Linked DNA regions of Homo sapiens: region 2 is linked to region 1. A link means that fine-mapping ties the variant in region 1 to the expression of a gene that starts in the linked region. Tissue or cell type: sun-exposed skin. Region 1 holds a variant in brackets; the other region holds the start of a gene. All regions are shown on one strand. Distances are between the middles of the regions.

What was found. PIP is the estimated chance that this variant, and not a neighbour inherited with it, causes the effect.
Region 2: UBE2D4 starts here. The variant in region 1 is fine-mapped to the expression of UBE2D4 in sun-exposed skin (GTEx, PIP above 0.99). The same link has a PIP of 0.9 or more in unexposed skin.

Annotation. Positions count from the first base shown.
Region 1 is chr7:43,959,689-43,964,169 of GRCh38, forward strand. It overlaps the pseudogene POLR2J4. Among named protein-coding and RNA genes, the nearest start is that of UBE2D4, 35 kb to the left of the region's middle. The variant G/A (reference allele first, on the strand shown) is at 2,084.
Region 2 is chr7:43,924,760-43,929,240 of GRCh38, forward strand. It overlaps UBE2D4 (ubiquitin conjugating enzyme E2 D4), which reads left to right and starts at 1,677. Exons shown (of 7, transcript NM_015983.4): 1 at 1,677-1,797. The coding sequence starts at 1,774. It also overlaps a transcript of URGCP not described here. RefSeq lists a silencer at 1,571-2,110.

The DNA.
Region 1 (4,481 bases):
GCGAGGGGGTCTACATAGGGCAGGCCACATCCTCTCCTCTTTAAAACCCATCAGGGTTTCCATTACACATAGAATAAAACCCAAAGCCCTTCCCTTGGCCTCTCCTTCTCCCTGTGTCCCACTTCTCAGACCAATTAAGCTGGCTCCTACCTCAGAACCCAGTCTCTGCTCCAGGGTTAGTTACCTCCTCTAAGGCTTTCCCTGGCCTATCAAGCTGAAACAGGTTTCCATACACTGCAACAGGAAGCAGTATCATGCTCCCTCAAACTTCTCACCACTAGAGACTCCTCCTTATAGTCTTCTCTACATGGAGCTTGGTCACCTCACTGAGCTGATCTAATTCCAGAACACAGAGACCTGCTTCTTTGGCCTGCACAACCTGGTTTCAGGTAAGGGTAGCTTCTCCTCAGGTAGACTAAAATTTGAAAAGTGCTCCCAGACCTCCTAGGGCTTCCACCTGGGACTGGTGGCCAAACGGGTGAAGGAACCTGACAACTAGAAGGTGATTAAATAGGAGTATTCCCAGACAAAGAAGAGAAAAAAAGGTATGTTCACCAAAGAGAAGACGGTATAAGTACCATAAGACTGATGGCCAAACTCCTCTAGAATATGGAGACTGGGGGCAGAGGGATGAGGGGGCAGAAAGTCACCTGAGGGTCTGGTCTGAAGGAAAAACAAGCAGAGATGTTACTGAAGTAAGGGGGGAAAAGACTGAAAATTAGGAGATCTGGAGAGCCTCTATTTATGTAAATTCACTTTTTCTAATGTAAACAGTAGTGAAGTCAAAGTAGAGAAGTAGGGAGACCTGCACTGTGGAAAAGAGAAAAGATTGAAAAGAAGATCCAGGACGAATTCAAAGGAGGGGTGAAGACTGCAGACTGGACTGCTAAGGAGAAGAGATATTTTGCCACAACTTGAGACTTCTCCAGGTCAGGATGAAGTAACTGTTTTCCTCTCAGAAATGTCAGAGCTTCTGCCTGTAAGACAAGGCAGTGGTTCAAATGTGTCCACCAAAGTTCATATCTTAGAGGCTTGATCTCCAGTGTGATGGTGTTGAGTGGTGGGAGGTGGGAGGTGCTGAGGCTCTCATGAATGGATTAATGCCATTATTTTAGAAGTGGGTTTGTTACCCGAGAAGGGTGTCCAGGTTCTTGGTGTCATGAACAAAGAATTGGACAAAATGCACAAAGAAAGCAAGGAAAGAATGAGGCAACAAAAGCAGAGATTTATTGAAAATGAAGGTACACTTCACAGGGTGGGAGTGGCTTGAGCAAGTGGTTCAAGAGCCTGGTTACCGAATTTTTTGGGGGTTAAATATCCTCTAGAGGTTTCCCATTGGTTACTTGATGTACACCCTTGTAAATGAAGTAGTGCCCACAATCAGTCTGATTGGTTGAGGGAGGGGACCTATCAGAGGCTGAAGCAAGTTTCAAAGTTACACCCTATGCAAATCTCTGATTGATTGGGAAAAGGCTGAAGTGAAGTTACAAAGTTATACTCCTATGCAAATGAAGACTTGGCCCATGACCAGCCTCATTGGTTGTGGAAAGGGACCAATCAGAGGTACTTTCAATTTTTCATCTACCATGCAGAAAAAGGTTGGGGGTGGGGGTTGCAAAGGAAGTAGCCAAACAAACTCTGACTACAAACAGAGGTCCCAGTGGGTAGGGGGCTGGGACAAAGCTTTTGGGGGAGGGGGAGGACAGAGGACCTTGGGGCTGGGGGATCTAAGCTGGCCCCTCAATAAAGGGCCTCCTCGCCACCTCCCAGCCCACTGTCCCACCTCTGCCCTTGGCTCTGTTCCTTGCCTCCCTCCTGTCTGACCCCATCTGCCTCCTACAGGAGGAGCCCACCCACCCCCAAACACCTCCCAGCGTTCTGGGCCCAGCTCCTTCCCAGGCCTCACTGGTGCGACTCAGCTCCAGCTGGAAGAGCAGGTCCAGGAAGTCCTTGGCCAGCCCCTGCCCCAGGAAGAGCTTGAGCAGGTTCGTGGCCACGTCCTGGCGACACTCGGTGCTGGTTGTCTCCTCGATGAGTGGGATCAGCTGCCCTGGGCCCTGCAGGGAGAGGCACGGGGGATCCC[G/A]AACCTTTCCCTCTGAGGACCTCAGAGCATCCCAGGGAAAGAGGACATTTTCCCAAGGGGTGGCTGGGGATGGGGCCCTGGACACTGGCCAGCTCCTCACATCCCCAGACCTCAGGTTTCTGCTCTGCAGAATGGGTTTGGAAGGACAGGCGCACAGGCCTACTGCCACTGGACCCTCCCACCCTGCCCAGGTCCCCTCACCTGCATGCCCAGCTTGACCTCGTGGCACAGCAGGTGCACCAGTGGCTGGTAGTAGCTGGAGGGCAGCACCGTCTCGTCCCGCAGCCGCACCTCCAGCTGCAAGGAGCCCAGGTTGCCCCTGGAATGGGCAGCCTGTGACCTCTCCACCAGGGACTCAGGCCACCCTGGACCACACCGCTCCCATGGCCTCCAGTTTTTTCCCTTGGGGCCAGCCTCCCATCTCTCTGCTCATGCCCTCCATCCGGGTGCCCTGCACAGCTCTGCCTCCCAGGCTCTGCCCGGGCTATTTATTTTCTGTTTTTGGAAAGCCCTTCCTGTCTCTGCACTCAAGGCACCTCTATCTGTCTTCGAGGTGTGGCTCCCTGCCACCTCCAAGCTTGGGTATGTGGAGCTGCCAGCCTTGAATCTATCAACTCCCAGATAATGGCACCATCATGGGTACACTTTACAGCAGAAGCAAATCCCCAACCCTCATAACAACCTAATAGGGAAACTGAGACCCGAGCCAGTTCAGCAACTTGCCACATTAGATTGAGCTTCCCAGCTTCCCTGTTCTGATAGGGAAGTTCAGAACAGAGGAGGGTGTGGACCAAGTGGGAGCCTCTAAGGCTCCCACTGCCCGTGCTCAGCACGAGCCTCATGCACAGAGCAGTGTTAAGATGGGCCCCTGGGCCTGGCGCAGTGGCTCATGCCTGTAATCCCAGAACTTTGGGAGGCCAAGGCAGGCAGATCACTTGAGGTCATGAGTTCAAGACCAGCCTGGCTGACACGGCAAAACCCCATCTCTATTAAAATATATATATATAAATTAGCCAGGCATTGTGGCAGGTGCCTGTAATCGCAGCTACTCGGGAGACTGAGGCAGGAGAAGCGCTTCAACCCAGGAAGCAGAGGTTGCAGTGAGCCAGGATTGCACCACTGCACTCCAGCCTGACTCTGTCTCAAAAAAAATAAATAAATAAAAAATAAGATGGCAAGATGGGCCTTGGCTGGTTCTATGGAAACACCTTGTGCTGGACACACAGCCGTCCACCTGCTCCTACCCTGTTAAGGATGGGAACTGGGGGAGTGGGGGTCTGGGGCCTTCCACAGAGACACAAAGCTGAACCATTGAGGGCTGTGGGCCACAGCAAACAAGCCAGAGGGCTTCCTAGACAGGCTGCCAGATTTAGCAAAACGACCCAAGACACCCAGTTAAATGTGAATATTTTATTTACTTATTTTTTTTTTTTAGAGATGGGGTCTTGCTATGTTGCCCAGGCTGGTCTTGAACTCCTGGGCTCAAGTGATCCTCCTGCCTTGGCCTCCCAAAGTGCTGAGATTATAGGCATGCGCCACCATACCCGGCCTAAATTTGAATATTTTTAGTATAGGTATGTCTCAAATAGTGCATGGTCATTCTTCTTCTTTATTTATTTATTTTTTTTGCTGAGATGGAGTCCTGCTCTGTCACCCAGGCTGGAGTGCAGTGGCACGATCTCGGCTCACTGCAGCCTCCACCTCCCAGATTCAAGCAATTCTCCATCCTCAGCCTCCCAAGTAGCTGAGATTAGAGGTGCCCGCCACCACATCCGGGTAATTTTTGTATTTTTAGTAGAGCCTCACCATGTTGGCCAGGCTGGTCTTGAACTCCTGATCTCATGATCCACCCGCCTCGGCCACCCAAAGTGCTGAGATTACAGGCATGAGCCACCGCACCCAGCTGTTTTCTTGAGACGGAGTTTCGCTCTTGTCACAGAGGCTGGAGTGCAGTGGTGGGATCTCGGCTCACTGCAACCTCCATCTCCTGGGTTCAAGCAATTATCCTGCTTCAGCCTCCCAAGTAGCTTGGATTACAGGTGCCCACCACCATTTTTTGTACTTTTAGTAGAGACGGTGTTTCACCATGTTGGCCAGGCTGGTCTCGAACTCTTGACCTCAAGTGATCCACCCGCCTCAAACTCCCAAAGTGTTGGGATTACAGGTGTGAGTCACCACGCCCAGCGGTTATTCTTATACTAAAAAAGTATTCACAGCCGGGCACAGGTCAGGAGTTCAACATCAAGCCCGGCCATCACGGTGAAACCCCATCTCTACTAAAACTACAAAAAATTAGCCAGGTGAGGTGGTCCTAGCTACCCGGAACGTTGAGGTGGGAGGATTGCTTGCACCCAGGAGGTGGAGTCTACAGTGAGCTATGATCACCACTGCACTGGTG
Region 2 (4,481 bases), 35 kb before region 1:
CTGGAGGATACTTTGAGTTTTTGTTTTTTTGAGACAGGGTCTTGCTTTGTCTCCCAGCCTGGAGTGCAGTGGTGCCATCACAACTCACTGCAACTTTGATCTCCTGGGCTCAAGTAAGCCTCCCAAGTAGCTGGGACTACAGGTGCACACCACCATGCCCAGCTAAGTTTTGTATTTTTTGTAGAGACGGGGTTTCACCATGTTGCCCAGGATGGTCTAGAACTCCTGGACTAAGGGATCCACCCACCTCAACCTCCCAAAGTGCTGGGATTACAGGCATGAGTAACTGTGCCCGGCCGAGGATCCTGGATTTTGAAGGCCCCTGGATGACAGTGAATGTGATGCTGTAGGCCACGGGGCTTCCTTGAAGAGTTCTGGGTAAGGATGCAGTGTGGTAAGCTTTATATTTCAGACAGTTCATGAAGTTGTGTGGAGGACAGATTGGGGGAATGGGAGCGTGAAAGCCAGGGACAAAGCTGGGCAACTATTGAAATGTCTATAATACATTTTATATGCTGACTGAGTACAAACATAGAGGTGACCATGTGTCTTGGCTGGCTGGAGACAATTCTAGATTACAGCGTTGGTCCCAGAGTAATTATATTAACAGCCACTTTCATGCTCAAACATGTCTCAGTCTGAAGATTAAATATCATCTACATACACACACCAACAAAACTTCCACAATTCTTACCTTTACTATGTGAAATGCACTGATATTTTATTCTGTTTTTTTATTTTTATTTTTTATTATTTTTGAGACAGAGTCTCGCTCTGTCACCCAGGCTGGAGTGCAACAGTGTGATCTCAGCTCACTGCAACCTCTGCCTCCTGGGTTCAAGTGATTCTCGTGCCTCAGCCTCTCAAGTAGCTGGGATTACAGGCATACGTCACTACGCCCAGCTAATTTCTGTATTTTTAGTAGAGACGGAGTTTCAGCATGTTGGCCAGGCTGGTCTCGAACTCCTGACCTCAAGTGATCCGCCTGCCTCGGCCTCCCAAAGTGCTGGGATTATAGGCGTGAGCCACCTCGTCTGGCTTTTTTTTTTTTTTTTTCAAAAAAATGTTGGTTGCAACCTATTAAATTGATTTCGTGACACACTAGTTCATAACCCTCAGTTTGAACAACTCTGACCTAGACGCCTGCCAAGTCTTGGGAAAATAGGAAGGAGACAGATAATTAAGTTTGGGAGATGCATAGTCTAAGGCCAGGGTTCTCAATGTTGGCAGTGCAAGATCACGTGAGGTACGACTGAACACGGAGATCTCCAAAACTGCGGAGAGTTTTGCGTGTGAACGTATGCACAGACATCTACATGGAAATGGCTGTAACGCATCCAGCCATAAGGCGTACGAGGGTATATATACTTACAGAGTTAAGAACCACTATTCTCAGGAGTTATATGACAGCCTGGGAAGACGCCCAGGATGTAGGAACAGGGAGCAGGCGAGCGTGTGGCACCTTGAGGGTGCTCCGCGCGTCTCCGTAAAGCCAACGAGCCCCTCCTCTTCGCTGGCCTCTCCGGGGCCTTGCTGACTAGTGGTCGAAGCCACAGGACCAGGTGCGGGTGGCCAGCGTAACCCGGGCAGCCCCGCTGCTTCCCCTCGGCCGCGCCAGGACGCTCGGCACGCGGCGACGACGGCCCCACAGTGCCCCGCGCGCGCAAGCGCAGGCTGCGGCTCCCGGCGTGCAGCTTGGTGGCGGCTGAGCCGGCAGCGGGCCGCCTCAGGCAGCCCCGGCCGGGCCGCCCGGGTCCCCGGCAGCGGGGTAGGATGGCGCTAAAGCGGATCCAGAAGGTACGCACTTTCCCACCCTCCAACTCTTTGGGTGTCCGAAGCGTCGAGGTGTGGGCGGGGCGCCGCTGCCGTGAAGTGAAAGGTGACGGAGGCTCCGCGAGTCGCGGATACACCTGCCTGGGAAGGAGGCAGAACAGCCTCCCGCGCAGCCTGAAAAGCGAACGCAGCCTGAGAAAGGGATTGCGCGAGCGCGGGGCGGGGCCGGGCCGTGGCCACGAGGGCTGCGTCATGCGGGCGGGGCGCCGTGGGGCCACCTGCAGGCTTCTGGACAGCGGGTTCCCCCTGTAGGGTATCCAGAAGGGCTGGGTGGGTATCCAGAAGGGTATCCAGGAAGAAGCTGGGTCCTAAGGGATGAGTAGGAACTCGGCAGGTGGGGAAAAGGGGAAAAGGCTTTCCCTGCAACGGGGAGACTACGAGGCTTGGAGGACTGACAGGGTAGCGGGGAAGCTGAAGGGCAGATGGTGTGGACTTGGGTGGTCCTTAGGAGCAGTGCTGAAGTAACTGGTTTTTATCCTGCAGGTAAGAGGGAGTCCATGAGGGTTTAATGCATTCACTAGAATTTGGAAAACGCACAACAGTAGAAGAAAGAAGTATTTCTAATTCTATCACTTTACTATTTGTTAACATTTTAGCATACCTACCTTCAGTTTTTTTTCTATATTTAAAACAATTATACTGCATTTTGTATTCCACTTATTCACATAATAGTAAATGTAAGCATGTTGTGAAGTAGTATTTATAACTTTTTTTTTTTTTTTTTTTGAGGTCTTGCTCTGTCGCCCAGGCTGGAGTATCGCCCAGGCTGGAGTACAGTGGCACAATCATGGCTCACTGCAGCCTCAACCTTCTAGGTTCAAGTGATCCTCCCTCCTCAGCTTCCTGGGTAGCTGGGACTACATGCCACCATGCCAGCCAATTGTTTATTTTTTGTAGAGACAGTGTCTCGATATGTTGCCCAGGCTGGTCTCATACTCCTGGGCTTAAGCGGTCCTCTTGCCTCTGCCTCCTAAAGTGGCGGGATTACAACGTGAGACACCATGCCCAGTCCTATAACTAATTTTTAACATTAACTTTCCACAAGTACATGACTAGTAACTTATTTAGTCATTACCTGTAGTAGGTAAAAGTATGGACTTGGGTGTCAGACAGACCTGGGTTAGAGAATGTGAGGTCACTTATAGTGGGACCTTGGGCAAGGCACTTTATCATTCCTAGCCTCCCAGTCCTACATGTTTACAGAGTTGTTTTGAGAATTAAATGCTATGAAATGTGTTTAGCACATGCTTGCTGTATACCAAACACTCAATACGAGTTAGCTGCTGTTATTGTTCAAAATTCTTCACTAAGTATTTGCTGTTACGAACTGTGTATTAGTCTGTTTTGTGTTGCTATAAAGGAATATCTGAGGCTGGGTAATTAATAAAGAAAAGAGGTTTATTTGGCTCTCGGTTCTGCAGGCTGTACAAGAAGCATGGTGCCAGCATCTGCTTCTGGTGAGGCCTCAGGAAGCTTACAATCATGGCAGAAAGCAAAGGAGAAGCAGGCGTGTCACCTGGTAAGAGAGGGAGCAAGAGAGATGCCACCTCTTTTAAACACCCAGATCTCACATGAACTAATAGAGTGAGCACTCACTTATTATTGTGGGGGGGCCACCAAGCCATTCATGAGGAATCCGCCCCCACGACCCAGATACCTCCCACTAGGCCCCACCTCCAACACTGGCGATCACATTTCAGCATGAGATTTGGGGGGGACAAATATCCAAACCAGATCAACCATCATTGTACAATGAGCCTTTTCCTTAATTCACATTACTGGGTTTGATTGCCAGAGGTGGAATTACAGGATCTCTGAGAGTATGACTCTTTTTTTTTTTTTTAAATAAATAGCTGTCCAAAAGAGAGATAATTCTGATGAGTTATTCTCTGAAAGGGGTCATCTGTCATCCTAGGACTTTGAAGCAGGTGAATGACATGCTGAGATCTGTGTTCTAAAAAGATCTTTCTGGCAGCAGTGTGGCCGGAAGTGGGACAGAGGGAGACTAGAGGCTGTTGTGAAGGTTCAGTAGAGGCTTTGTCCAAATTAATGACCATGGAATGGATGCTAGGCCAGAGCAGTGCCTGGACCACATTGCAGAAGTGGAATTGACAGGACTCGAGGAGAGGATGTGGTGAAAGTGAAACAAGGAGGTGTACAAAATGGGTCACTTAGTGGATGGTGGTGTCAGTGTCTAGGATGGGGAATCAGAAGTTTTGAAGGCAGGGAGGAGGGTAGGAGAGATTAAGGAATAAAGGTTTGAGCCTACATATTCAAATGTGTAGGCTGATAAGATTTATAAAAGGGAGCGTTTGGAAAAACAAGTTTGGGCCTTGAGCATGAAATGTCAACTATAGATCCAAGGTAATTGAAATCATAAGGCCAGGGAGAACTTTTCCTTGATAAGAATCAAGGACAGGCTGGGTACAGTGGCTCATGCCTATATCCCAGCACTCTGGGAGGCCGAGGCAGGTGGATTGCTTGAGTCCAGGAGTTGGAGACCAACTGGGCAACACAGCAAAATTCCATCTCTACTAAAAATAAAAAAATGGCCGGGTGAGGTGGCTCATGCCTGTAATCACAGCATTTTGGGAGGCCAAGGCGGGTGTATCATTTAAGGTCAGGAGTTTGAGACCAGCCTGGCCAAC